Linked DNA regions of Homo sapiens. The protein of the gene in region 1 interacts with the protein of each later gene in a pairwise test. Each region holds a gene or a part of one and is shown in the gene's direction. Other genes may lie near its edges. The genes, in order: VSTM1, LAMP1, MANSC1 and KCNJ6.

Evidence for each region.
Region 2: the proteins of VSTM1 (region 1) and LAMP1 interact in binary tests that used the Homo sapiens proteins (3 or more experiments, as listed by UniProt).
Region 3: the proteins of VSTM1 (region 1) and MANSC1 interact in binary tests that used the Homo sapiens proteins (3 or more experiments, as listed by UniProt).
Region 4: the proteins of VSTM1 (region 1) and KCNJ6 interact in binary tests that used the Homo sapiens proteins (3 or more experiments, as listed by UniProt).

Annotation. Positions count from the first base shown.
Region 1 is NC_000019.10:54,040,319-54,046,917, reverse strand, and holds the end of VSTM1 (V-set and transmembrane domain-containing protein 1 isoform 1 precursor), read left to right. Parts: intron 1-4,360; coding exon of another isoform or gene 4,361-4,428; intron 4,429-4,548; coding exon 4,549-4,641; coding exon of another isoform or gene 4,642-4,691; intron 4,692-4,721; coding exon 4,722-4,749; intron 4,750-4,964; coding exon 4,965-5,002; intron 5,003-5,101; coding exon 5,102-5,139; intron 5,140-5,837; coding exon 5,838-5,957; 3' UTR 5,958-6,093; downstream 6,094-6,599.
Region 2 is NC_000013.11:113,292,461-113,300,261, forward strand, and holds the start of LAMP1 (lysosome-associated membrane glycoprotein 1 precursor), read left to right. Parts: upstream 1-4,778; 5' UTR 4,779-4,974; coding exon 4,975-5,035; intron 5,036-5,178; exon of another isoform or gene 5,179-5,277; intron 5,278-7,801. UniProt on the Homo sapiens protein: Lysosomal membrane glycoprotein which plays an important role in lysosome biogenesis, lysosomal pH regulation, autophagy and cholesterol homeostasis.
Region 3 is NC_000012.12:12,347,232-12,354,415, reverse strand, and holds the start of MANSC1 (MANSC domain-containing protein 1 isoform 1 precursor), read left to right. Parts: upstream 1-4,173; 5' UTR 4,174-4,338; intron 4,339-7,184.
Region 4 is NC_000021.9:37,906,438-37,913,463, reverse strand, and holds part of KCNJ6 (G protein-activated inward rectifier potassium channel 2), read left to right. Parts: intron 1-7,026. UniProt on the Homo sapiens protein: Inward rectifier potassium channels are characterized by a greater tendency to allow potassium to flow into the cell rather than out of it.

The DNA of each region.
Region 1 (6,599 bases):
GGCTTGAAAATTACATTTTAGGGAGTGGGGAAGAAGGGCTGGGAGGAAAATAGATTAAACAAGTGTGGGATATCTGTGTCCCTCAGATGGTATCTTTGGCTCCATCCTGCAGAAAGCAGTGGAGACAGAGAAGGTCGAAGACCAGAGGCTAGGGAGCTGGGGTCCCCACAGCCGTCAGTGGCAGTTTGTCCCGGGCATGTAAATTCCAAGGCATTTGGAGTTCTCCCAGGCAGTCCCCCAAAGAAGAGATACAAATGTTCACTTTGGAAAGGGAAAGAAGCCACGATCTAGAATGCATAAAAATGGGAAAGGGATCTGGGGAACATGGGTTGAGGAACATTGACAGAATCTATTACAGAGAGAGATGGGTGTAGGTGGAATATTGGGTGAAAAAAAATCATCATTATACCTACAATCCCATTATCCGACACAATGAGTCAGTTTCTAGACTGAGCGCTTTAAAGCCAGGATTTTTCATCATTACCTAACTCTTCAAGTTAGATATTATTAGCTCTCTGCCCCCTCCTTATATTTAACCAAAAAATAACGTATTCCAGAAAGGGAAGGGAACATTTACAAAGTCAGGAGGTAGGAGACCCAGTACTAGAACTCAAATATGTCTTGTTTCAAACTCCCCACTCCTTTTGCTGCTCCCTGATGATCAGCTCAGAAAGAACCTTATTTCAGGGAGGGGGATAGATAGATAATTAGATGTGATAGATAATAGGCAAGTAGGCAGATAAATAGATAACTAGATATGATAGATTAGATAGATACATAGATGATAGGTAGATAAGTAGCTAGATACGATGGACAGATTAGATAGATAGACAGATGATAGGTAAGTAGGTAGATAGATAACTAGATACAACAGGTTAGATAAGTAAGTAGATAGATAACTAGATATGATAGATTAGATAGATAAATAGACGATAGGTAAGTAGGTAGATAGATACAGATAGATTAGCTAGCTAGCTAGATGATAGATAACTAGATATAATAGATAAGATAGATGATTAGATAGACAGATAATTAGATATGATTGATAGATACATTAGATAGATGATAGATTAGATAGATAGATGATAGGTAACTAGGTAGCTAGATAAAGCTAGCTAGATAGATAGATAGATATACAGATACACAGATAGATACATAGATACCTAGATAGGTGATAGAGTTGCAAGATAGAAAAATTAGATAAGTAGGTGGATAGATAGATAGATAACTAGATAGAATAGATTAAATAGATAATAGTAGGTGAATAGACAGATACATACAGATGATAGATGATAGATGATAGATAACTGGTTATGATTGATAGATACATTAGATAGATGATAGATTTGGTAACTAGATGATAGGTAAGTCGGTAGATAGATAAGTGATAATTAGATATGATAGGATGGATAGATTAGACAGACAGCAGGTAAGCAGGTGGATAGACAGATAAAGATAGATACATAGATGCCTAGATAAGTGATAGATTAACAAGATAGAAAAATTAGACAGACAGATAGTTAATTACATATGATAGGATAGATAGATTGGATAGGTGATAGGCAAGTAGGTAGATAGATAAATCATAATTAGATAGGACGGATAGATTGGATAGATGATAGGTAAGTAGGTACAGAGACAGATAAAGATAGATAGGTAGATAGATAATAGATACCTAGACAGATGGTAGATAGATTAGCGAGATAGATAAATTAGATAGGTAATTCTCTATATATAGATATGTAGAAATGCCAATGCAAACATAGCGAACCAAGTAGGGGAAGCGTCTGGATGGGAGACCCTCTGTTGGTGCAGAGGACCAGGCGTGTGAAGCATCTCAGACTTGGCTCTGTAATGTGACCACAGATCATTGCACACCTAGGAAAAATTCTCAGACTCAAAGCACACTAACAAAGATAGCGGGGGTCTTGGTGAAGCCCCTTTCTGGGGCCTCACTTCTATAGTTGCTCAACTTTTTTCCTTAATCACGTTTCTGCTACTTACTCCTTAAAGTCTCACGACTTGTGTTTCTTGAATCTAAAGTGCCAAGAAAAACAAAAAACGGGGGGGAACTGCATGGACTCTGTCGCCTAGCTTTAGTAACAGGTTGCTCTCTCTTCCTCAACGCTGTGAGCTTTGGACACAACCCTTGCTGTAATCCCAGGAGTCACACGGGAATGCATGCCCTTCACCAGTGGGAGGGAAATAATTGTACTACCTTGCAGGGTTGTTGTTAAGACTTTAAAACGCTATGATGTAGACTTGCATGGCAATATTGCTCAAGAACTAGTTTTTTTTGTTTTGTTTTGTTTTTGTTTTTTAATTGGTAGAAATTTTATCTCCTGAGAGGGATGCTTTTTTGAGTTGGAGTCTTGGTCAGTTGAGTGTATGATGCAGTGATGCGATCTCGGCTCACTGCAACCTCCGCCTCCCAGGTTCAAGCAATTCTCTTCTCTCAGCCTCCTGAGTAGCTGGGACTACAGGCGTGCGCCACCATGCCCAGCTTATTTTTTATATTTTCAGTAGAGACAGGGTTTCACCATGTTGGCCAGGCTGGTCTCGAACTCCAGACCTCAAGTGATCCACCTACTTCACTCTCCCAAAGTGCCAGGATTACAGGCGTGAGCCACCGTGCCCGGCCACTGGTCATTCTTTTCTACCCTGCTCTAACCCTGTTCTTATTAGGAATCCTCCCTGAATTCTCCCAGCTGATCCCTTGTTCTGTGTCTTGGGGAATCATGTCTCCTTCAGAGAGCCCCACCCCTCCCCACTCTAAACGCCTTCCATGCCCGTGTCACTGCTGTTCATTACCTGGCATCAACGAGCTCATTGAAGTGTGTTTGAAGTTGGCTGGGCGTGGTGGTCTGTACTCCCAGCTACCCTGGAGGCCGAGTGAGGAGGACCACTTGAGCCCAGGAATTCGAGTATGATCACACCACTGCACTCTAGCCTGGGCAACAATGGGAACCCATTGGCACATCTGGGATTGGCATCCTGAGCTCCCATCTGTGACCTCCCTCCTCTCCCCTCCTCTCCCCTCCATTGCCCTCACCCTCTCCCCATAATCTTCACATCCCGTCCTTTCACATCTCTCTCTCTCCTTTAAAAAAAGAAAAAGGAAATATGTTTGAAGTTAAGAGCTGAGATCATGTCTGTGTTAGCCAGGGTTTTCCAGAAAAACAGAACCAATAGAACATATAGATATAAGCTGGGTGTGGTGGCTCACGCCTGTAATCCCAGCACTTTGGGAGGCCGAGGCAGGCAGATTGCCTGAGGTCAGTAGTTCAAGACCAGCGTGGCCAACATGGCGAAACCCCGTCTCTACTAAAAATACAAAAATTAGCCGGGCGTGATGGTGGGCACCTGTAATCCCAGCTACTCAGGAGGCTAAGGCAGGAGAATTGCTTGAACCCGGGAGGCGGAGCTTGCAGTGAGCCAAGATTGCACTATTGCACTCCAGCCTGGACGATAAGAGTGAGACTTTGTCTCAAAAAAAAAAAAGAGAACATATACATGTATATACATATATGGAGAGAGAGATTGATTTTAATGGATTGGTTCACGTGATTGTGGGGAGCTGGCAAGTCTGAAATCTGCAGGGCAGGCAGGCAGGGGATCCAGGGGAGACTTGATATTGCAGCTTGAGTCTGGAGGCAGAATTCCTTCCACCTTGGGGGACCTCAGTCTTTTCTCTTAAAGTCTTAAAGTCTTCAACTGATTGGATGAGGCCCACCCCTATGACAGTGGGTCATCTGCTTTACTCAAAGTCTATTGGTCGAAATGTCCAGCTCCAAGGAAGTTCCAGCTCCAAGGTGGGAGATCCAGGCTTGGAAGCCAGGCCATCTGTCTGGCTTCTCTTAGCTTTTCTACTCACCCCATCAGTGGATTTCAGACAGTGATTACACAGACAGATGTGGTGGCTCACGCCTGTAATCCCAACTACTCAGGAGGCTGAGTCAGGAGAATTGTTTGAACCAGGGAGGTGGAGGTTGCAGTGAGCCAGGATCACACTCCAGCCTGGGTGACAGAACACGACTCCATCTCAAAAAAAAAAAAGTGTGTATATATATATATATATGTATATATATATATATATATATATATATATATACACATTTATATATACACACACATATATATACATTTATATATATATATACACACACACACACGTATATATATATATGGAGCACCTGGAACAGAGCTGGCTCACAATAAATGATCAATATCATTGCTATGCACCAAACATTCCCTGGGAATTTTTGGAATTTCCTATGCGCCAAGCACTGTTCCAGCCCTTTCTATAGGTACTGACCCACCATCCAATAAAGTAGCTACTGCTGCTATCCTCACTTTACAGATGGGGAAACAGAAGCTTGGAGAAGATTAAGGAAATTCCCCAAAGCAATAGGAAGTTCCAGCTCCGAGGTGGGAGATCCAGGCTTGGAAGCCAGGCCATCTGTCTGGCTTCTCTTAGCTTTTCGGCTCGCCCCTATCAGTGGATTTCAGGAGCCAGGCTGATTCCCTGACCTGCTCTTCCCCCTCCAGACACCAGAACCATCTTTGTCGCCATCTTCAGCTGCATCTCCATCCTTCTCCTCTTCCTCTCAGTCTTCATCATCTACAGATGCAGCCAGCACAGTGAGCTCAGAGAACGCAAAGGGAGAGAGGGGGAGTGAAGGATTTTCTCGGTAGGTAAATTCCTCCTGCATTTTTTGTAGGTTCATCATCTGAGGAATCCACCAAGAGGTAGATGCTTGGCATAGCTCATGCTCCACTTATTCCCATGTCATTCTCAAGGGAACCCATTGGCACATCCGGGATTGGCACCCTGAGCCCCCACCCCAGCCCATTCTGTGACCTTCCTCCTCTCCCTTCTTCTCCCTTCCTCTCCCCTCCATTGCCCTCACCCTCTCCCCGAAATCTTCACATCCCATCCTTTCACGTGTGTCTCTCTCTTTCAGAACCAGCCATTCCAAACTTCCGGAGCAGGAGGCTGCCGGTAAGGGACAGGGGAAGTTTAAGGGAATCACCGGATAGAAAGACTAAGTTCTGACTTCTGCAGCTGAGAACTGATTTTTTTTTTTCCTTTCTCACTCAGAGGCAGATTTATCCAATATGGAAAGGGTATCTCTCTCGGTGAGTCCTCCCGCTTAGGAGTCCCACAAGAGCTCCCTCACCACAATGGGCTGGTCGTGTGTGCCTCCTGGTTAAGCCCATACAGAAATGTATACTGTTTATCACGCATGTGGTCTTAGACAAGTCACGAAACTCCCCTAATGGGAACCAAAATCTCCATTTAAAAGGCTTATGCATGGGCCGGGCGCGGTGGCTCACGCCTGTAATCCCAGCACTTTGGGAGGCCGAGGCGGGCGGATCATGAGGTCAGGAGATCGAGACCATCCTGGTTAACATGGTGAAACCCCATCTCTACTAAAGATACAAAAAATTAGCTGGGCGTGGTAGTGGGCGCCTGTAATCCCAGCTACTCAGGAGGCTGAGCCAGGAGAATGGCTTGAACCCGGGAGGCGGAGGTTGCAGTGAGCCGAGATCACGCCACCGCACTCCAGCCTGGGCGACAGAGCCAGACTCTGTCCCAAAATAAATAAATAAATAAAAATTTAAAAAAAATGAAAAAAGGCTTACGCAGATCCATTGATGTCACAGGCATAAAGGGTTATAAAAACAGAAAAGAAAAAGAAATGCATCTGGTGTGACCGAGGACCTGGGTTTTAAATTAAATTTAATTGTAATTAACTTAAATGTCAATAGCCATGTGTGGCTAGTGGCTGCCATATTGAACACTCAGTTCTAATATTCATCTATTTTCTCCAAAGACGGCAGACCCCCAAGGAGTGACCTATGCTGAGCTAAGCACCAGCGCCCTGTCTGAGGCAGCTTCAGACACCACCCAGGAGCCCCCAGGATCTCATGAATATGCGGCACTGAAAGTGTAGCAAGAAGACAGCCCTGGCCACTAAAGGAGGGGGGATCGTGCTGGCCAAGGTTATCGGAAATCTGGAGATGCAGATACTGTGTTTCCTTGCTCTTCGTCCATATCAATAAAATTAAGTTTCTCGTCTTAAAAAGAAATCTGACTTATTTATGGATTATTCATGCCCAAGAACCCCACCATACTCTTTCTACCCCACATTTCCTCCTAGAACAATTCAAGGAAATAATAAATAATGATTGACCAGCTATCCAGGAAAGAATGTAAGAATTACTGAGCATCTCCAGGAAGCACAACAAGCAAAAAAGAAAACGGCCGGGCTCACGCCTGTCATCCCAGCACTTTGGGAGGCCGAGGTGGGTGGATCATCTGAGGTCAGAGTTCAAGACCAGCCTGACCAACATGGTGAAATCCCATCTCTACTAAAAATAAAAAATTAGTTGGACGTGGTGGCAGGCGCCTGTAATCCCCGCTACTTGGGAGACTGAGGCAGAAGAATCGCTTGAACCCAGGAGGCAGAGATTGCAGTGAGCTGAGATGGCGCCATTGAATTCCAGCCTGGGCAATGGAGTGAGACTCCATCTCAAAAAAAAAAAAAAAAAAAAACAAAAAACGCCCAGAGCTGCAAACTCCTAGACCAGAGGGC
Region 2 (7,801 bases), on another chromosome or scaffold:
GCAGCTGCAACTTCTGCCTTTCTCCCTGTAAACAATAAAGACCAAATGGCACCGGAGATAAGACCCCCTCAGATCACTACCCCTCCTCATGGAGTCATAACGCAATCTTCCTTCAAATACAGAGATCCCTAACCAATGGAACCGCTGCGGCGTGTGCCCCTGGTCTCATATGAGAACTGTGGTGATCCTGCTGGAGCTTCTGTCTCTGCGTGGTAAGTGAAACCTGAGCTTCTCCACTTGGAAACGCTGACCCCATGTGTCTGCAGTCAGTGCCTTCCCGGGTGGCCATCCTCAAGCTCTGCACTCAAATACACACTATAGGTAATCAGATTTTCTGAATCTCATTATTTGCAGTTGACACCTGAATTGCAATGCTTTCTTCCCAAATAAAACGTTAAATTTGGAGAGTCATCTCTACATTTTTGACTCTGACATCTCTAAAGACCATTTTTCATCAAAATAAACCAGGGCTTTTTTTTTTTTTTTTTTTAGACAGAGTCTCACTCTGTTGCCCAGGCTGGCGTGCAATGGCATGATCTCAGCTCACTGCAACCTCTGCCTCCCAGGTTTCAAGTGATTCTCATGTCTCAGCCTCTGGAGTAGCTGGGATTACAGGCGCACGCCAACACAGCCCGCTAATTGTTGTATTTTTAGTAGAGACAGGGTTTCAACACGTTGGCCAGGCTGGTCTCAAACTCCTGTCTTCACAGGATCCTCCCACCTCAGCCTCCCCAAGTGCTGGGATTACAGGTGTGAGCCACTGCGCCTGGCCCAAACCAGGGCTTCTTGATGAAATCATGGATTCCAACTGTGACCTAGAAATGCCCAAGGTGAGTTTAGCCGTAATGTTGGTAACTGGGCTGGACATAGTGGCTCCCATCTATAATCCCAGCATTTTGGGAGGCCGAGGCGGGATGCTCACTTGAGCCCAGGAGTTCACAATAAGCCTGAGCAACATAGCAAACCCTGTCTTTTATACAAAAGTAAAAATAAATTAGCCAGGTGTGACAGTGCGTGCCCGTAGTTGGAGGTGCTTGGGAGGCTGAGGTGGAAGGCTCAGTTGCACCCAGAAGGATGAGGCTGCAGTGTTGGGCAACCCAGCCTGGGCAACACAGTGAGACCCTACCTCTAAAAAACATTTTTTAAGTAGTAACTGAAAGGCGGGTAATAGTGGTAGGCAAGGCGGGGATCATTATATTATTCTACTTTTATTTAAAATATCCTTTAGAATTGTTACAAAAAGACTACTTATCTCAATTTTTACCTATCAACCACTACTTTATTTCAAATACTGAGCCCATGTATCAGCTTCCAAACCTGAACTCTTGTGGCAGAAACTGCAGAAGAAAATTTCAGGAGCCTGTTTCTTGTGCCAAGCGGGAAGCTAGGCCCTGTGGCCTGAGTCATGCAGCACGTTTGCAACTTCAGCTTCTTGGACTGGTTAGGCTGACAGGTGACCACACAGCCTCTTGTTCTTGTTTTGTAAATGACTAGGAGAGACCAGAGACCAGACTTCCCCGCTTCCCATTACTGATCTTTGCTGTGGACCAGCCGCCTCCTTCATTGTCCTGTGCATCTGTCCTAACTCAGACTAGATGGCACGACGACCCCGTGACGTAGTCCGTGTGGAACGCCAAACATACCTTTCCCAATAGGAAAAGACCACCTTGGCTAATCGGAGCACAGTAACTGTGCATTCACCCTCAGAGAGAAAGATGCTGGAATTGTGTTAAGTTTCCCTAAACTTCATCTATAGAAATGATCCCAAACTGCTACATTTCAGAACACCGACTTCTGTTCTTTGGAATCTGTGCTTCCTGGGCGGCCTGTCCTCAAACTTTGCACTTGAATAATCTCTCTTTAAAGTAGATTCTGACTCTTGATTATTTTAGGTTAACAATGTCTTCAGGGAAATATATTCCACACTGAATTCCTAACTTAAAAAACAAAGAAAAGCTATAAAATGTGAAAAAAAAAAAAAAAAAGGTCAGGCGCGGTGGCTCATGCCTGTATTCCCAGCACTTTGGGAAGCCAAGGAGGGTGGATCACTTGAGGTCAGGAGTTCAACAGCCTGGACAACATAGTGAAACCCTGTCTCTACTAAAAACACAAAAATTAGCTTGGCATGGTGGTGCATGCCTGTGATCCCAGCCAATTTTTTAAAAATTGGCCAGGTGTGATGGTGTGCACCGGTAGTCCCATCTACTTAGGACGCTGAGGTGGGAAGGCCGCTTGAGGCTGCAGTGAGCCTTGATTCCAACACTGCACTCCAGCCTGGGAGACAGAGAGAAATCCTGTCACAAAACAAAACAAAACAAAAAAGAAAGAAGGGGGAAGAAAAGAAAAAGGAAAGAATCAGAAAAAGAAGAAAAAAAGAAAAGAAAAGAAGGGAGGGAGGGAGTAGGGCATCACTTTGTCTAAATAATTGTAACCACAAAAAAGTGGAGACAGGTGAAGTAAATAGATGAGTATGGCCAGAGCATGGGGCAGCAGCAGGAAAGGAAAGAACAGATATGTATGGTTTGGACTAGATGAGTGTTTCTGAGCCTTTTTTTGATAAATGCCCTCCCTCCGTTCTGATACACACTTTAGGACACAGTGTGGGAATCATGTCATCTCTGAACCTCCTTCAACCAAGATTTTGTCCAGCATTAGATTCTATTTTTGCATTGTTAAGCAGGTTTTTGTTTTGCACCATAAAACTGTAATATTCAGTATGCTTGTTCAAACACCTCTCCTACTTTCTAAACCCTACTTCTAGCCTCCTTAAGAAGCAGTGGATCAGAGGAGTCCCCGAATTTAAACCTCCAGAGTTTCGCGTAATTGTCTCATTCCACTGCAGGGGAGAAAATATAATTTCTCTTCTTTCTCTCTTTATTAGTTGAGACATTCTCCTGAAAACAAAATTCAGAGCAACAGGAGAAACAAGCAGAAGTTTATTAGCACTTGCTGTACCCATCGTGTGAGAGGCCTCAGTTCAGAAGTATTTCTCTCTCAAGGCATGTTGTGAACAGCACAAGGTCAGACATAACCAGGTCCACACACGTTTATGTCTTTCCACAGGGTGGGAATATATTGATGCTATTTCAATTATAAAAGCCACGAGCTACGAGGAGTTGCCTCGAGACAATTCCCTTCAGTACTACTTGTTAACTTGGTAGAGCCATGGGCAAAGGCTCAAGCCAGTCCACGTGTCAGTCAATACTGCAAACTATACATCATAGTGTACTTAAAATACAAACGCTATGGTTTAAACATTCCCCATCAAACAAAGTAACATTGGACATCAAGAGAAAGAGGATAGGAAAAGGGGTTAATGGATCAATCCAAGGAAAGCAATGACGGGAACAAGGAGTGTATTCCAGCCTGATCCAGACAGAAGTCATTGTCTTCCAAGGAAGTCCTTGATGTGAGCAGATCCTTAGGCAGCAGATGCAGGGTGCTAAGCACAAGTGACAGCAAGGTGGGGTCTATCAAAATGCCAGTGTTGAATTGGTCAAATCCCGCCCTTTTTAAGGTCACAGTCCTCTGGTGAGGACTGATAGTGAGTGCCTGGTCCTGTCTTTATCTGGCTGAGTGCTGTCTCTATTAACTAGGTGCACATCCAGTCCCCGTTGCTATGATGCCTTTTGAAATGTAAGATTAAATCTTTTTCTAAGATGTAGGTACTTATGCGACGGGTGCTTTATACAAAGCAGTAGCGTAGGGGCCTTAATTAAATAGTATTTTAACAAAAGGCCATAAATCCTATATGATGACAAGCCAAAAAACAGAGCATCTTCAGACTTCTAAAATGCAGGAGCCAGGCGCCGTGGCTCAGGGCTGTAATCTCAGCACTTTGGGAGGCCGAGGCGGGTGGATTGCTTGAGGTCAGGAGTTCGAGACCAGCCTGGCCAACTGGTGAAACCCCGTCTCTACTCAACATACAAAATCAGCCGGGCGTGGTGGCGCACGCCTGTAATCCCAGCTACTTGGGAGGCTGAGGCAAGAGAATCGCTTGAACCCGGGAGGCGGAGGTTACAGCGAGCCGAGATCGCGCCACTGCACTCCAGCCTGGGCGACAGAGCGAGACTCCGTCTCAAAAAAAAAAACAAAGTGCTCGACAGGAACTTTCTGTAAGCCAAAGAGTATCGCCATCGCACCTTCACCTTCACCTTGGGCAGCCTGGTGCCGTCTTCCCTCAGCCCGCGATTAACGAGCGGAAGGCCGCACTGACCCATTTCAGATCCCTTATTTCCTTCCTAAAACCACTCAAGAGTTTGGGCACAGTGGCCTCCCTGTGTGAGGAACTTGCTTCCCACTCACCAAAAGACAAACCCTTCGCCCATCCCTGGCCGCGCACCCGGCCGGTCACCCGCGCTGCCACCCACACCACCCTCCTGTCCATAAAGAGCCCGCGTTTGGGACGCCTCGCAGGCTGAAGGGAGGCCTGGGCGTCCGCGATCCGTCTGCCCTTTCTCCCCTCGCGGGCTTCCTCTTTCCTCACTTTCTCCCGCCACTACTCTTCCTCTTCCTTTTCCGCGAACCCAGCCCACTTCCCGTTTCAGGACCTCGGCTCGGCCCCAGTCCCCCGGACCAGGCCGGGTCACGTGGGTCCAGGGTCACGTGCCGCTGCGGGTCACGTGCCGCTGCGGGTCACGTGTCGGCCTGCATCACGCGTGAGGGGGCGCGCGGTGCTGGAAGCTGCCGCACCTGCGGGGAGCCGAGCCGCCGGCGCTCGACGCGCGCGCTCTCGCGAGACCCGCGGGATCACGTGACGCCCGGGCGCGGCGCAGCTCACGTGACAAGCGCTGCCGGCCGCGGTGTCTTCTTCGTGCCGGCGTCGCAGTGGCCGGGCCTCTTGCGTCTGGTAACGCCGCTGTCTCTAACGCCAGCCCTTGGCGCCCGCGCCCCGCCACCGCAGCGCCCGGCAGTCCGCGGCCCAACCGCCGCCCGCGCCCCCGCTCCCCGCACCGTACCCGGCCGCCTCGCGCCATGGCGGCCCCCGGCAGCGCCCGGCGACCCCTGCTGCTGCTACTGCTGTTGCTGCTGCTCGGTGAGGGGGTCGAGGCGGGGCCTGGGAGCGGCGGGACCGGGCGGAGCCGAGGTCCCTGGGTCTTGAGGGCGGGGGACTGCCGGGTCGTTGTCCCGCGGGTCGCCCCGCACCCACTGCTCCTGGTCCCGGCCGGCTCTGCCCGCGGGCGGGTGTTTCTCTCGGGGTCGTAGGGTCGGAGCGGAGCTCAATGGCAGGTGCTTGGGGGACCAGGAGGTCTCATCCCAGGACCTGGCTCCTCTAAGGTCTGTCTCACTGAACTCAGTTTTTCTGTGGTGGTGAGTGCGAAAGGGAACTTCCGATGGCTTGCTCGGCGGTCTGGTGCTTTCAGGTCGTTAAGTTTCCTGGCAAGTTGAGGCGGTGAGATCTAGACGAGGCTGCGCCGCCGAAGGTGGCAGGGACGTCTGTGGTCTCAGCTCCCGGGTGGGTGACCTAGATCAAGCTCTTCCCAACATGGATTTCACCCAGGACAGGGAGAAGCCGGTGCGAGCATTCCCCACCTTTGTACTTGAACCTTTCTCCTCTTTCAGCGGTGTGGAGGAGATGCGAGTGTATTTATGTTATTGTGAATTCACATGTATGTTAAAATAATTTTTAAAGTTATCTTTGGGATTTCACAAGATTCCGTAGTAGACAAGATGAGGGAAAGCTGGCCTCAGACTCACGGTGGCAATGTTCATGTCTAGTAAGTAGTTTAAAGAGCGCCGTTCCTGTAGGCCGAAATGCGGGACCAGGGAACACGTGGGGAAGCACCCTTCTCTTCTGTCAGTTTATAGAGCTCAGATGGGCAGTAGGTGCTCAATATTGTATTGACTAGTGAATTTCGTTCTCATTTATTGTCTTAATAAGAGGATGTGTGCTGTCTCTTTAAGACAGTCCGGATTGCCCCCCGCCAACACTATTCTTTCACCTCCTCCCCCCGCCGCCCTCCCCCGTAATATGAGAAGATTATCTTAAATGCCAGGATCTGAAAGGTGATGTAGAATCAAGCTGGGGGAGTGTGTGTGAGTTAAGTAGATATAGAAATACACTCCTGTACACATCTGCCTTGACTTCTTTAAATCCCTCAGTCCCATCCAGCTGTAAAACTCTGTTACTGTGAGTGAATGGATCTTGGCTTCCCTTTTTTGTTTTGCCTGTTGTGTAAAATGAATTCTTTGAACTGCCTGAATAGCCACAGAGATGAACTTATTCCAATAGTAAGCCTGAAGCCTTGCTCAGCTCCTGCGACAGGGTCAGGTGTAGTTAATGAAAGGAGTTGCAGAAACAAGTTTTGTCATGTCACAGCAACTGCATTGTTCTTTGTTACAGATGCTCACAAGCCTCATAACTTTGATGTTTTGTTTCATGTTTTAAAAACTCACTTCAGGCCGGGAGCAGTGGCTCACGCCTTTAATCCCAACACTTTGGGTGGCCGAGGCAGATGGATCATGGCGTCAGGAGTTCGAGACCAGCCTGGCCAATATGGCGAAACCCGGTCTCTACAAAAATACAAAAATTAGCTGGGCATGGTGGCGCACGCCTGTAATCCCAGCTACTTGGTAGGCTGAGGCAGAAGAATTGCTTGAACCCGGGAAGCAGAGGTTGCAGTGAGCTGAGATCAAGCCACTGCACTCCAGCCTGGGCAACTGAGGGAGACTCCGTCTCAAAACAAAAAAAAAATTAACTTTAAAAATGAAGAGAAAAAATCCATAACTCCCTAATATTGTGATTGGAATATTGCTTGTGTAATCAGTCTTCTAAGATCTGTTCCATTATATCTTTTATGTTTACAATCTTAACTTTTTTTTTTTGAGGCGGAGTTGCTCTGTGCCCAGGCTGGAGTGCAGTGGCACAACCTCGGCTCACTACAACTTCTGCCTCCTGGGTTCGAGCAATTCTTCTGCCTCAGCTTCCTGAGTAGCTGGGATTACAGGCACCCGCCACTATGCTAGGCTAATTTATGTATTTTTGGTAGAGACTAGGTTTAACTATGTTGGTTAGACTGGTCTCGATCTCCCGACCTCGTGATCCGCCTCCCTCTGCCTCCCAAAGTGCTGGGAGTACGGGTTTGAGCCACCGTACTTGGCCCAAGAATTTTTTTTTTTTTTTTTTGAGGCAGAGTCTCACTCTGTCACCCAGGCTGGAGTGCAGTGGCGTGATCTCCGTTCACTGCAGCCTCCGCCTCTTGTGTTCAAGCAGTTCTCCTGCCTCAGCCTCCCTAGTAGCTGGGACTACAGGTGCGCGCCACCATGCCTGGCTAATTTTTGTAGTTTTAGTAGAGATGGGGTTTCACCATGCTGGCCAGGCTGGTCTCGAACTGACCTCGTGATCCACCTGCCTCAGACTCCCAAAGTGCTGGGATTACAGCCATGAGCCACCGTGCCTAGCCAAAATCCAACTTTTAAAAAAGGCCTTTTAACAACTTGCATTTAAAGATATTTAAAATGTTTATTTTAATGTGCGATTTCACCAAAAATCCTTTTTTCTTAAAAAAAGAAACTGCTCAATTACAAATTTCCACTATATTAATAATTAGGCATTGTTTAAAGCTACTGTGTTTGAATACTTAGAAAGCTCAAACATGAACTGAAACTTGTCCTGATAGATAGGATTAGCTGTGATTGCGTAATGTGACCCTTTAAACCATTGATGTCAGCAGGATGACCGCCTTACCCTTTCCACTTGAACAACTGTCACTTAGGAGGTTTGAACAATTTTATACTCGGCTGGGTGCAGTGGTTCACGCCTGTAATCTCAGCACTTTGGGAGGCCCAGGTGGGCGGATCA
Region 3 (7,184 bases), on another chromosome or scaffold:
TTAAAATCCCTTCTACATGAGCAGCAAACTGTGTTATTGTATATGTAATAACTAGCAATTGAACAGCCTTTTTGAGTTTACAGGTCTGCAGGTCTATATGTTAGACCTGCATAAAAAGGTCTATATTATGACCTGCGTGTAAAGTAGATACCACTTTCCTAATTTTACAGAAAAGTTAAGTGATTTATTCTTGGTCACACAACTAGTGAGTGATAAAACCAGGATTCACGTTTTCAAAACTCATCATGCCTCTGTCCACTCCAGACTGACTCCTCTTCCCGTGTCTTTATATGACCTGGTACTCCCACCCAACCAGGCTCCCAAGCCAGAAGCCTGCTTACTGTCAGCACTGCATCCAACCAATCGTTGTGTCCTGGAGAGCCTCTCCTCTTAATTTCTCCTCTATCTGCATGCCCATTTCAGGGCCTTATCACTTCCGTTTCTTGGAAGAGAGGCCTCTGGCCTCACGTCCCTCAATCCATCCCTCCTGTGGCAGGTAGAGATAATTTTCTAGAATATTAATTAGGTCTCTGGACCTGTCACTGCCCTACAAAAAGCCTTCAGGAACTCCCCATGCCTTTAGGATAAAGTTTAAGATTTAACATATGAAAACCTTCCTGCTCTGACCCCAGCCTCTCTCTCTATTCTTCTGTGTACACTGGTAACCTTCCTAACAGGCTGAATTTCCTGTGGTCATGCAGTTTCCTATTCCTGAAATATTCAGCCTTTTCCTCCTCATCTGCTAATAACTTCATTCTTCAATAATTAACACCTCTTCCCAGAAATTGGGATCAGATGTCCCTTCTCTGAGCCTTTTTAGTTGCCATCTTCTATCATAACATTTATTCTTTTCTTGGGGAGGGCAGGGACAGGGTCTCACTCTGTTGCCCAGGCTGGAGTGCAGTGATGCTATCATGGCTCACTACAGCCTCCTAAGAGCCTCCTAGGCTCTTAGGAGATCCTCCTGTCTCAGCCTCCCAAGTAGCTGAAACTACAGACGTGTACCACCACACCATGCTAATTTTTATTTTTTGTAGAGATGGAGTCTTGCTATGCTGCTCAGGCTGGCCTCAAACTCCTGGGCTTAAGTGATCCTCCTGCCTTGGCTTCCCAAAGCACTGGAATTACAGGCATGAGCCACTACACCTGGCCTTCATCACACTTAACTGTTTACACAGCCATTGATTTACTTTTTCTCCTTCTGAACTATGAACATCTTAAAGGTAGATCTCATTGGTATTACTGGTCTTTAGTTTCCCCTGCAGGTGCTTAATACATGTTTTTTTTTTTGTTTGTTTGTTTGTTTGTTTGTTTGTTTTTTGAGACAGAGTCTCACTCTTTCACCCAGGCTGGAGTGCAGTGGCTCGATCTCGGCTCACTACAAGCTCCACCTCCTGGGTTCACACCATTCTTCTGCCTCAGCCTCCCCAATAGCTGGGACTACAGGCGCGCGCCACCATACCCAGCTAATTTTTTGTATTTTTATTAGAGACAGGGTTTCACCATGTTAGCCAGGATGGTCTCGATCTCCTGACCTCGTGATCCACCCGCCTCGGCCTCCCAAAGTGCTGGGATTACAGGCGTGAGCCACTGCGCCTGGCTGCTTAATACATGTTTTCCGATTACTTTTAAAGAAATCTTTCTCCACATAGATGGGACTTCTAACCCTCAGAGAAGAGTGTCAAGAATCTCTTCAGGAAATGAAGTGACAATGGATATAATTTCTAAGTTATGACTCAGGCCAGAAATTAAAGTTTTTATTTTATTTTTAAGTAAGCCAAGTGCAGTGGCTCACACCTGTAATCCCAGCACTTTGGGAGGCCAAAGCAGGAGGATTGCTTGAGCCCAGGAGTTTGAGACTAGCCTGGGCAATGTAGCAAGACCTCATCTATACAAATAATTTAAAACACCGGGTACGGTGGGTCACGCCTATAATCCCAGCACTTTGGGAGGCCAAGGTGGGCAGATCACTTGATGTCAGGAGTTCAAGACCAGCCTGACCAACATGGTGAAACCCCGACTCTACTAAAAATACAAAAATTAGCTGGGCATGGTGGCATGAGCCTGTAATCTCAGCTACTCAGGAGACTGAAGCAGGAGAATTGCTTGAACCTGGGAGGCAGAAGTTGCAGTGAGCTGAGATCGTGCCACTGCACTCCAGCCTGGGCAACAGAGCGAGACTCCATCTCAAAATTAAAAAAAAAAAAAAAATTAAGAACATTAGCTGGGTGTGGTGTGCGTTTGTGGTCCCAGCTACTCAAGAGACTGAGGCAAAAGAATCACTTGAGCCCAGGTGGTCAAAGCTGCAGTGAGTCGTGATTGTGCCATTGCACTCCAGTGTGGGCAACAGAGCGAGACCCTGTCTAAAAAAATGAATAAATAAACAATGATATTTATAAATTAAACATATATAATAGAAAATATTTCTTTAATCATTATTTTAATCAATATCCTTTGTTCACTGTCATAACTGAAAAAATAACATATCACTTCAATGAAAACAGGTTCAGGCCGGGCACAGTGGCTCACGCCTGTAATCCTAGCACTTTGGGACGCCGAGGCGGGCGGATTGCCTGAGCTCAGGAGTTCGAGACCAGCCTGGGCAACACGGTGAAACCCCATCTCTACTAAAATAGAAAAAAATTAGCTGGGCGTGGCGGCATGTGCCTGTAGTCCCAGCTACTCAGGAGTCTGAGGCAAAAGAATTGCTATAACCCGGGAGGTGGAGGTTGCAGTGAGCCGAGATCACACCACTGCACTCCAGCCTGGGCAACACAGCGAGACTCCGTCTCTAAAAACAAACAAAACACAAAACAAAACAAAAAAAGAAACAGGTTCATTGTATTAAAGCACCGAATACGAAGTTTCTAATAATGGAAAGGTCTACTTTGTAACTAGCATGGATTACCCCATGTAGAGAGATTCAAAAACTGTGATAGCTCTACACCCTGAACCCTGAAGTGTATCAGATGATAAAAGATAAAACACACTTGCAGATCAGTCCCTTGTTGCATCAGGAAAATCACTGCAATGGGAAATTACTCTGGTGTTTACTTTTCTTTGGTAACTCTTTCAAACCTAGCTTTAGCAACATTGTAATTCAAGAGTCATCCTTTGGTTACAAGTAGAGTTAGTTTCACACAATGGACCTTTGTTCACAAGCATTCTCAGTCAACCTAATCCTCCTGTAGTTATTGGTTAAGACTAGGGTGTGTAGCTGTTGGCCGTACAGGCCTAGACTTAACTTGCAATTGCATAGCGCTTCAGGTCTGCAAGCTCTTTCAAAACAGAGGTGAAGATACTGTCAAAGGTTAGACCATATGGCAAACTAAGTGTCAATGGTTTAGTAACGTTGCATTTGTGTGTGTGTTTATGGAGGTGGGGATGGGGCCAGCAGTAATTTAGAAACTTCCACAACCTATGCCCTATGCAGTTCTTTTCCATTCATTCAGTCAACAAAAATATTTTAGTTAAATATTTACTGAGCACCTATTGTGTACCAGGCACTATGCTAAGTGTTAGGGATACAGTTTTAATATATGTTACAGACACCAGCATTTTCACCATTATTATCCTATCTACAAACAATAAATCCCGCAGAAAGCCAAATACCTTCCCTGAAGTTTGTCTTGCAGATAATATTTAACTCAAGAATTGCCATCTTTAATTGAGGACTCCATCCTCCAATTATGGAAAGAGGATTCTCAGAACTATGCCCCCAATAGGATGCACTATAAGCCCTTGAACATCAAAAAACTGCTCTCAGTGGTTGCCTCTGAGGAGGGAGACTAGGAGACTGGGGCACGGGGGTGAGGGGTAGACTTGTCTCTGTGTCTATTTTTGTACTGTTTGACATTTTCCCCATGTGCATTTATTTTAACTTGCGCGGGCCGCGAGGCAAGGCTCACCTGCAGACCCTCGGGCCACCAGCAGGGAGGCACGCACTCCCCCTCGCAGCGCGCCCAGCCCGGGGTCAGCGGTGTGGCTGAGCTGGGGGGGAGCGCGGGGCGGTGGGGGGAGCCACCTCCCTGCGGGGCTCAGCGCTGGGGCCGGGAGCCCGGAGCCTCCGCGGGGAGGGACGCGCTAATGTTGCCGGGAAGCAGCTCCGGGTTGCAGGGCAGGAACGTGCCCTTCCCCCGCGGCAAACTTGCCGTCGCTGCGACGGAAGCAGGAACTTGCTAACCACAAAACCCGCCAGGCCGGTGCGGGAGCTGCGGAGCATCCGCTGCGGTCCTCGCCGAGACCCCCGCGCGGATTCGCCGGTCCTTCCCGCGGGCGCGACAGAGCTGTCCTCGCACCTGGATGGCAGCAGGGGCGCCGGGGTCCTCTCGACGCCAGGTAAAGGGGTCTCCCCAATACCCACCCCCGACCGGCCGCAGGCGACGTCGCTACCTGCGGAGAGAGTCGGTCCCCTCCTTTCCAGGGGCCGAGGCTCCTTCACCCACACCCGAGCATCCAAAGGACCAGCTGGGGCCAATAAGGGCTGACCAGGATCCTTGAGTCGCTGCAGTATTCCAAAGGGGACCTCTAGGCGGGCTCAAGGCACCTGCCATAAATGGCTCTGGCTCTGCGTTGACATCAGAAGGAGAGGCAGAAGAATAGCTCAGTAGGCAACATGCATTTCCTCAAAGGAAGAGAAAATGTTCCCTGTTTTCTTGTCGTTGACTCTGTATTCATTATTGAAACTGCTAATTGTCTAATTCTCTGTAGAGTGTGTGTGTGTATACAGTTATAAGCATCTTGGTAAATTATAGTGTGCTGTAAGACGATTTCCAATATTTGAACTAATTACGTGCGAGTAAGTTTTAGCGACTCTTGTATGCAGACGTTAAAACTCAGGGGCATCCTCTCTCACCCGCCTGTATCCTTTTACCCCGTCTTTCAACAAGATTCAACTCGACTTCAGGCCCTTAAAGCCTAAATAATAATGGATTAGAAAACGTCGCTAACCTAATATTGCTGAGCCTCTTTAATGATATAAAACTCTTAAACACTTCTCTCAATGCTGCATACTGAAAACAACTCCTGCCCCATCTCCTTACATAGTTCAGGTTTCTTTGCAAAAGCTTGAAAAGAGGCTACATTAGAATCCATTCAAAATAAAGTATTGGCCTGGTTTTCTCTTGATTCCCTAGAGGCTTGCAAAATATGGCAGCGTATTAAGTACCTTGGCCAGAATTATTAACCTGGGGAGTCCACGATAAGGTATCCATGGATAGAATTCAGGATGTCTGTGAACTTGAGTGGAAAAAATTATTATTTCACCGACTTCTGAAATGGAATGTAGGCAAAAGCCACAGTAGTATTAGCAGTAGCTATGATTTGCCCCCTGTAAATATTGCCGATATCTTTATATCACATGACTTGTTGCACGTTTCAAAATATTATCTATACTCAATACCACGTCAAAATTATGGCAGTTATTAGATGACCACTTGTTACTTAATAGGTTAATAAAGAAGCACATATTATGTCCCACAACTTTTTGTAAGTTTTAACTAAAATGAGGATAATAATGGGATCTGTAAAGATTAAATGACATGATATATATAAAGTGCTTAGCATAGAAACTGGCATTTTAGACGCAATAAATGTTACTATTTTACTGTATACAGAATTTTGACAAACAGCAAGAAAAGTATTAGACTTGTGTTTTATTACCATATACTGGTTTGTTTCTGGGTTTTTTTTTTTTTTTGGTTTTACCTTTTTTTAAAACTAAAAGTCCATAGTTCACATAATGTTCACTCTGTGTGTTTTACATTTCTATGGGTTTTGACAGATGTTCAATAACATGTATCCTCCATTACAGTGTTATACAGAATAGTCTCAATGCCCCAAATATCCCTTGCACTCCACCGATTCATCCTCCCACTCCTGTTCTCCTGGTGACCACTGGCCTTCTTACTGCCGCTGTAGTTTGCCTTTTTTAGAACGTCATACAGTTAGATTCATATCTGTTCAGACTGGCTTCTTTGACTTAGGAATATGCAGTTAAGATTCCTCCATGTCTTTTTGTGGCTTGATAGTTCATTTATTTTTATTACTGAGTAATATTCCAATGTATGGATGTATCTCATTTTGTTTATTCATCTATTGATGGGCATCTTGGTTGCTTTTAGTTTTTGGCAATTATGAATAAAGCTACTACAAATATTCTATTGCAGATTTTTGTGTGGACATAAGTTTTCAATTCATTTGAGTGAATACATAGGAGGACAATTGCTGAATTGTATGGTAAGGCTGCATTTAGCTTGGTAAGAAACTGCCAAACTTCTCCCAAAGTGGCTGTACCATTTTGCATTCCCCAACAGCAATGAATGAGAATTTTTCCTTTTTTTTTTTTCTTTTTTGAGATAGGGTCTCACTCTGTTGCCCAGGCTGGAGTGCAGTGGCATGATCTCGGCTCACTGCAACCTCCACGTCCCGGGTTCAAGCGATTCTTCTGCCTCAGCCTCCCAAGTAGCTGGGATTACAGGCACCTGCCACCATATCTGGCTAATTTTTGTATTTTTTTTTAGTAGAGATGGGGTTTCACCATGTTGGTCAGGCTGATCTCAAACTCCTGACCTCAAGTGATCTGCCCACCTTGGCCTCCCAAAGTGCTGGGATTACAGATGTGAGCCACCGCGCCCAGGCGAGAATTTCTGTTGCTCCATGTCCTTGTATTTGGTATTGTCCATTTTTTGGATTTTAGCCATTCTCATAGGTGGGTAGTGGTATCTTGTTTGAATTTGCAATCCCCTAATGACATATGATGTTAGATACCTTTTCATATGCTTATTTGTCATCTGTATATCTTCTTTGATAAGGTGTCTGCTCAGATCTTCTGTCCATTGAGTTTCTTTTCTTATTGCTGACTTGAGTTCTTTGTATATTTTGGATACCAGTCCTTTATCACAGGGTTCCCCAACCCCTGGGCCGCAGACCAGTACCTATTAGGAAATGGGCCACACAGCAGGAGGTGAGCAGTGGGCCAGAGAGCAAAGCTTCCTCTGTATTTACATTATGCATTACTGCCTGAGCTCCACCTCCTGTCAGATCAGTGGTGGCCGTAGATTCTCATCGGCGCACGAACCCTGTTGTGAACTGCACATGTGAGGGATCTAGGCTGCACACTCCTTATGAGAATCTAATGCCTGATGATCTGTCACTGTCTCCCATCACCCCCAGATGGTACTGTC
Region 4 (7,026 bases), on another chromosome or scaffold:
GGAATCAAAACAACACTGGTGAGCTTCCGAAAAGGAGAGAGAGTTTGTTAGCAAGATGAGAGCCAGTGATCACATCTTCAAGCCTGCGTGTGAGCAAGGTGGCTACATTTCCTAGGTTGCAGTCGTAGGAAACCGAGAGGAGTCACTTCTCTTAATACAAACAAGGAAGAAACTGCAGGAGGGGAGGATTTATTACCATTCAAGTTCCATTTCAACATTCATACAGGGAAAACAGGTAAGTCCATCAAGCCCTTCTGCTCTCACTTTACGAGAAGCTGGTCTTTGCCCTGCTCTCATCCTTGGTAGTAGGTCCCCCACCACCACAACTGTCACTGATATGAAGAGGAAAAATAATACAGGAAGGTGACAGTCATATTTGAAATAGAATGCCTGTCAGAGTGCCATCCAGGTGTTACAAGGTATACTTTGAATTGCAGAGCCCAGTCAAGGTTTGGCAACTGGTTGGAAATGTTGATAAAGCTTCAACAATATCCCTGGCTGCTTTCCTGTTTTGTGGATGCACTTGTGCATGAGGTCTTGAGCTGGTTCTGGTTTGTTATTTTTAATGGTAAACAAGATATGATCCTGGTTTTCCTTGCTGGGCTTTCCAAGTGTGACATGTTGTTTCTAAAGATATTGCATGCTGAGCACTCAGGATGTGGTTAAAGCAGTGTGTTTCTACCTTCCAGTCTTTTCAAATGATTGCTAGTGAAGACAGAGCAATCTATTTCAAACCTAAGCAAAAGGATGAGTTATTACACTATTTCTTACATTTCAGTTCCTGATAGGTATTGACAAGTTTATCCATAATTTAGTTTATGAAAAGGTTGCTACCTAAAGTAGACAGAAGAAGTGACACGTGGAGTATTAAACAACGCAGCTGTTCCTTGGCCTTGTTCCATCTGACATTATCAGCAGAAGGGAAGTAGACGTTCATTATGAGGATGAAGCTATACGAGAATATAGACTGTTAGATAAACAAAGTAATGTATTTCTGAGTTCTAAAGTTCAATTTCTCTAATAAATTAAAAAGGGGGGTGGTGTCAATAATCTAGGTATATGAAATTGTTCAGTCAATAATCTTTACTTCTGGTAGTTTCCATGCTCACATATTCAGTGCTTATTCACCGAACTATGACTTGCTTTCTTCCTAGGTGGCTAATTGATTAACAAAGTGTCACTATGCCCTTTTCAGTCAATAGCATACTCCAAAATAATTGGTTTACTCATTTCAAGTAAGATTTGTTAAGGAGAGCAACTTGTGAAAATTCGCCCCCATTCACTTGGTTCCATTTTGCTATTTTAAAAAATCATTTTGATACCTCTTCTAGGTATTGCCTAAACAATAGTTACCTCATCTAGATATTGCCTAAACATTAGTATGTTTTCCTTTGTGTGAGACAGGTCTTTATTTAATACATAGGACTTACATGAACTATTTTCCTTGAGAATATAGAAGGGCTTTTAACTCAGTCTCATATTCCTCCCTATCATCTCAGTCTACCTCTACTTTATAGGGAAAAAAATTAGAATAGTTATTTAAGAAGTTATAGAAAAAATTCATTGGAGATTAAAAATAAAATACCCTTATGGAATCTTAACCCCATTCACTGATTTTCACAGGTAGAAAATGTTGCTGTTCTCAAGGGTTTAATGTTGACCATGTAAACCTTAATGAAAACAAGATAAATGCTCTTTATGGAAAGGCAGGCAGATAAGGTGAAGCTCTTCTCTTTTTCACCAGTTCTTCCTTTATCAAATGATATGTAAGTAATATGGAAATGGAAATGGACCAGAAATAGGCAGAGTAGGAGGAAAGAAGAAAGTGAGGGGAAAAGGCAGTTACTTATTGCTACCAGCTTTAAACTGACAATACTTTTCAAAGTGAGGTTGGTTTTTCTAAGTTCATTGTATTAGAACTTTAAGTTTGGTGGAATTAAGATGTTTAAATTCAGTGAATTTGGATTTATAGCTTATTGAGATGGCATTTCTTGTTTCTTCATTTTATCTTCAATAATTGGCATTTAAGTACCAAAAGATAATTGATTCACTCTGGAGTTTTACAAAATTATTAACTTTGGTAATACCAGTAAGGGGGAAATTGGCAGTTAAGTTGAAAAATCATCAAAACACTTTTGTTGAGTTAGTTTTCTTTTTAATTTTAGTGAAAGTATTTGGAGAGATAGAAGAATAAAATGTAGCTGTTTAGGATAAAAATACATTTTGAAGTGCATTTTAAATAATTATTTCTAGAAATAATTAGGCTCCAATAAAAAGAAGAGATAATCACAATTGCAGTTAGTGCTCTAATGGTATTCTGAATTTCCTCTGGCAAAGTACTAGAATATACATATACTTGCTATCATTTTAATAACATTAAATAATAGTGAAATTATTTTCCTCAAAGAGCGGTCTCATCATTAAAAGAAGAGTCTGTATCCTCTCTAAACTATAGCTTTGATCTAATCATACCTGCTAATCAGTTGTAAATATTCATTTATTTATTTGTTACTAAATTGAATCATTGTTTAAACAAAACCTCAGAGAATGATTTTGTGCAGTGTGCAATGTTCAAATGGTCATTCAGATCTGATTTTATATGGAATGCAGTAAGGCCATCAATCAATTTTCCCAATTACAATGTGTAAAGTTAACCCTAAATTTTAACCAAGTGACTAATTTATGTCTATACAAATGTATCCAAGTCAGATTAAACCCATTATCTCCTTGAGTCTCATGCTTCTCATTTTTTCTGTATGGCTGTGCTTAGGACCAGGAATCATACAGTACTGGTGATTCTTTTAGTGAATAGATTTTGGCTAACATGTATCACCGGTCTTATTCCCAGTCACAGAGATGTGGTTTCCGACATGAAATCCTTACAAAAGGAACCAGAAAGTGCATCTGTGGCTAAAAAGATCCATGTCCTTGCCAACAACTGTTCTGTGGGACTAAATCTGAAGGTATTATATGCAATGTGAGAGACATATCTATAAATTAAGTTTAAATCCTGTGGCAGTTTCCTCTTTAAACTTACAGACATCTACTTTTTTCTTATCCAGGATAAGAATTGATTTTTTTCATGATGCTTTAAATTTCTCTTGTATCATCTAGCAGGAACTTGTGCAAGTTTGACAATGTGCTTGGTAGGCGGTGTTGCTCCGTGATTAAGAGCACAGGCTCCGGTGTTTCTTACTAACTGAATCTGCATCAAGGTCTAGGTGTATCTGTCCATTTTTGCCAAGTTTGGGGCAGTAACAGCAACCCCAGCATCTCAGTGGCTTACAAAACAAAGGCGTATTATTCTCTGGAGCGCTATGCCTCTGCTGGTCAGCTGTGGCTCTGCTCCTGTGACTTCATTCTGGAATTCAAGATCAAGAATTGGTCTGGAACACTCTATCCCAGTATCAGAGGAAAAGGAGACTCCCAAGTTAAGCAATGGCCCTTAACATTTCTGCTCAGACATGGCACAAGTTATCCACTCACATTCCATTGACCGGACAATTCACATGTCACATCAGTGTCAATGATCAATGGGAAGGAGATGTATATTTCTCCCACAGTGAAGCACTGCAAGCCGTGCAGCAACAGGTAGAGACATCTAATCTTTCAGAGAGGGAAGAGAATAATTGGAGGCAATAATATAATCCACTATGCTAACTATGTGACCTTAATCAACTTTATGCCTTGCTTTCCCTATCATAAAATAATAACAATAAGAGTAATAATAACAACATATACCTCAGAGATGTTATGAGGATTCATGTGATAATGTAAGTAAAGTTCTTAGCACAGGCCAGGAGCGGTGGCTTACACCTATAATCCCAGCACTTTAGGAGGCCGAGTCAGGTGGATCCCTTGAGGCCAGGAGATGACTTGAGACCAGCCTGGCCAAAGTGGCAAAACCCCATCTCTACTAAAAATACAAAAATCAGCCAGGTGTGGAGGCACATGCCTGTAGTCCCAGCTACTCAGGAGGCTGAGGCACAAGAATTGCTTGAACCCAGGAGGCAGATGTTGCAGTGAGCTGAGATCACACCACTGCACTCCAGCCTGGGTGAGAGGGAGACTCTGTCTCCAAAAAAAAAAAAAAAGTTCTTTGTGCAGTGTCCAGCACAAAGTAGGCACTTTAAAAATAGCAGATGTTTTTATTCATTTATTGCAATGTGGCATTAACTTCAGTTCTTGATGAGCCTGTGTATACTGTATTAATTAGAAAGTTCTTGAAACAGAAAATATCTAAATCTCACTAATTTAACAAAATAGAAGATTTCTTTCACATAAATCTAATTGGTTGATGCCGTACAAGGACCCAGGCTGAGGGACACTTTGTCATCTTTAGTACATGGCTTCTAAGATCTGCTGAGTGGTGATATCCAACTAGCAGACAAGGAAAGAGGGAGAGTAGATGATTATGTAGAAGATTTTAATGATCCGGGCCTAGAAGTAATGTATATCACTCCTATTCATATTCTATGGTCATACCTAACTGCAAGAGCAGCTGCAAATTGTAGTTCAGCTCTATATCCAGGAGGAGGGAAACTGGTAGGGTGAACACACTGGAGTCTTTGGTATGCATGCCCGATATAAATGTCTGGCAGCAAAGAAATACAGCTAATGTGAATCAGGATAGAGTAAGGCAGAGGAAATGATTTGTCCCAGTGGTGAAAAGATTCCTGGTAGAGACAATATTTCCTGGTGCCCTTGAATCATTCTTTAGTGGTGTATTTTTTTAAAATAAATTAGTTGGGATATGTTGACTTTTGGAGTAGGTGTAGATGATTCTTAACAAAAGAGATGCAAATACATATTGTTTGATTTCTGTTAGCTGATCTGTTAAAGTAGACACAAAGGAGAAAAGCCAACTTCACAACCCATGCTCAAAAGCAATGTTCTAATCTTGACAATTACACCCACATTGTGTCTAAGAATGCTGAAGAATTAGATGCTGTCTTCTAATATCTGGCACTTGCTGTTGACTAGCAATTTGCATTTTGTTTTAAATCCCCTAAATGTCCATAGGCTAGATACATGCTGTAAGTTTAGGTTGAATTAGTCTACTAATAGTCATTGTTTTCCTGAAAATAGACCATGTAATTTGTAAGCAGTGTTTGAGAACCTCTGCTTCCCTCAAGGAGAAAACTTGGAAACTAAGTTCCATACCTTTTCACTAGAAGCAAAAGAACAGCTTTAATGCCAAACTTACAACCTAGAAAAGAGAAATGTCAGGGAGAAATATCTGAGAAGACTATGAGAGGAAGAACCAGAAGAAACAGAGTGGTGATCCATAATACTTCCGGTTCTCTTACATCGTTTCCATTTCCCTAACTCAGATATCACAGCCACATACATTCATGCAGGGGAAAACATTATCAAAATGAAACAGTAAATACCAGTAATGCATGTTAATCCTTCCATGGGGCAGTAATACTGGATTAGAAAACTCTTGACCTCTTCAAATATCTTGCCATTCCAAAGTAAATAATGTCTCATAGTGGAACTTCTGTTTAATGAAGAGAATGTTTTTGAGGACAGGATTTATTTCACTGCCACATTCAATCATTTCAATTTAAAAGGGATATAATCCAACAATCTATGTGCAGAAGGGAATAGGCAGGACAGTACCTGAGTCCAAACCATGTAATATTAGAGTAGATGAAAGAATTAGGAGTGTTTTCCCTGGAGAATATGTGGGGGAGGAGGCATGATAGTTGTTTTCAGGTATCTTGATATTTGAAGATGAAGGAAGGATTATAATTGTTCTGCTGGGCTCTAAGGGATAAAAGTGGGACCCAGCAGTGGAAGCTACAAAGTGACATATTTTGGTTCAATATAAGAAAGCATTTTCAGTAGTCAGAGCGGGGCAGAGGTAATGTGATCTGTCTTCTCTGCATTTACACAGCTCTGAATTCTTTGTCACTAGAAGCATAAAGAAGCTGAGAGAGCTAGGAACTGGGGTTGGAGTGTATGTATTTCAAAGTCTCTGCAACACAGAGCACTTCTAATGGCTATGAGAGAAGCGATGCCCTTCAGGCTCAGTCAACAAATCAGACTGGACCTCACCACTCTATGGGGCCATTGCTTTATGACTGAGGGAGCCATCATTTCTCTATAAAAAAAATGAATCACATTTAACCAAAAATGATATCTCAGTCCCTACACGAACCTTGTGTCTATGAGAGCAGGTCTGGAATGCAGTAATCATATGACTAAGCAGCATCACATGACTAAGAGGAAGGGTACAGGACTCACTGCTCATGGAAAAGCTTTACCCTTGCTTTTTGTTGTCAACACACTACCTTCAGTCAAAAGACAAGGAATGAAATCTCTCTTCGGAGGTTTTTGCATCACCTTACAACATTTTCAGAGCCAAGACTCCATGACGAGTTAGGCAGAGCACACTTCAGATTTTTAGACATCTCTAACGTGCAAAATATAGTGCTACTAACATATAATTCCTCCTCTCAAGAAATCTAGTTTCAATAATGGCAACGAATGGGGTAGATTCCTTCCTCTTCAGCTGTCTCCCAAGGTCTCACCAGTCAATACCCTAAACATATTCACCCTCTTAAATTTTCATTAGCCCTCCTGGGGTGGCTGGGCCCACAGTAGTAAAGCATATAAAGAGAGGGCAGAAAGAGGACGGCAAATAAAGAACCTATGACATTATGTGTTGTCATTGGAAGAGAGGCCGCATTAGGTGGCCCTCTTTTTTAATCAGCACTCAAGGAGTGTTGGGCCCAAGCCCACACTCCACATGTCTCCTTGACTGGCCACTGTTGGGGGTCTCTGTGGACAAAAGGAGGCATCAGAGCTGATGAAAGTCAGCTGAGGTCAGTGGTTCCCATAGTGTGTCCCTGAACCAGCAGCAGCATCACCAGGGAGCTGGCTACAAATGCAAATTCTCAAGCTCACCCCCCGATCTACTGGATCAGGAACCCTGAGGACAGGGCCAATCATCTGCCCATCCCCTCCAGGGATTCTGATGCACTCTAAAGGGTGGGAGCTACTGGCTTAGGTTTTCCT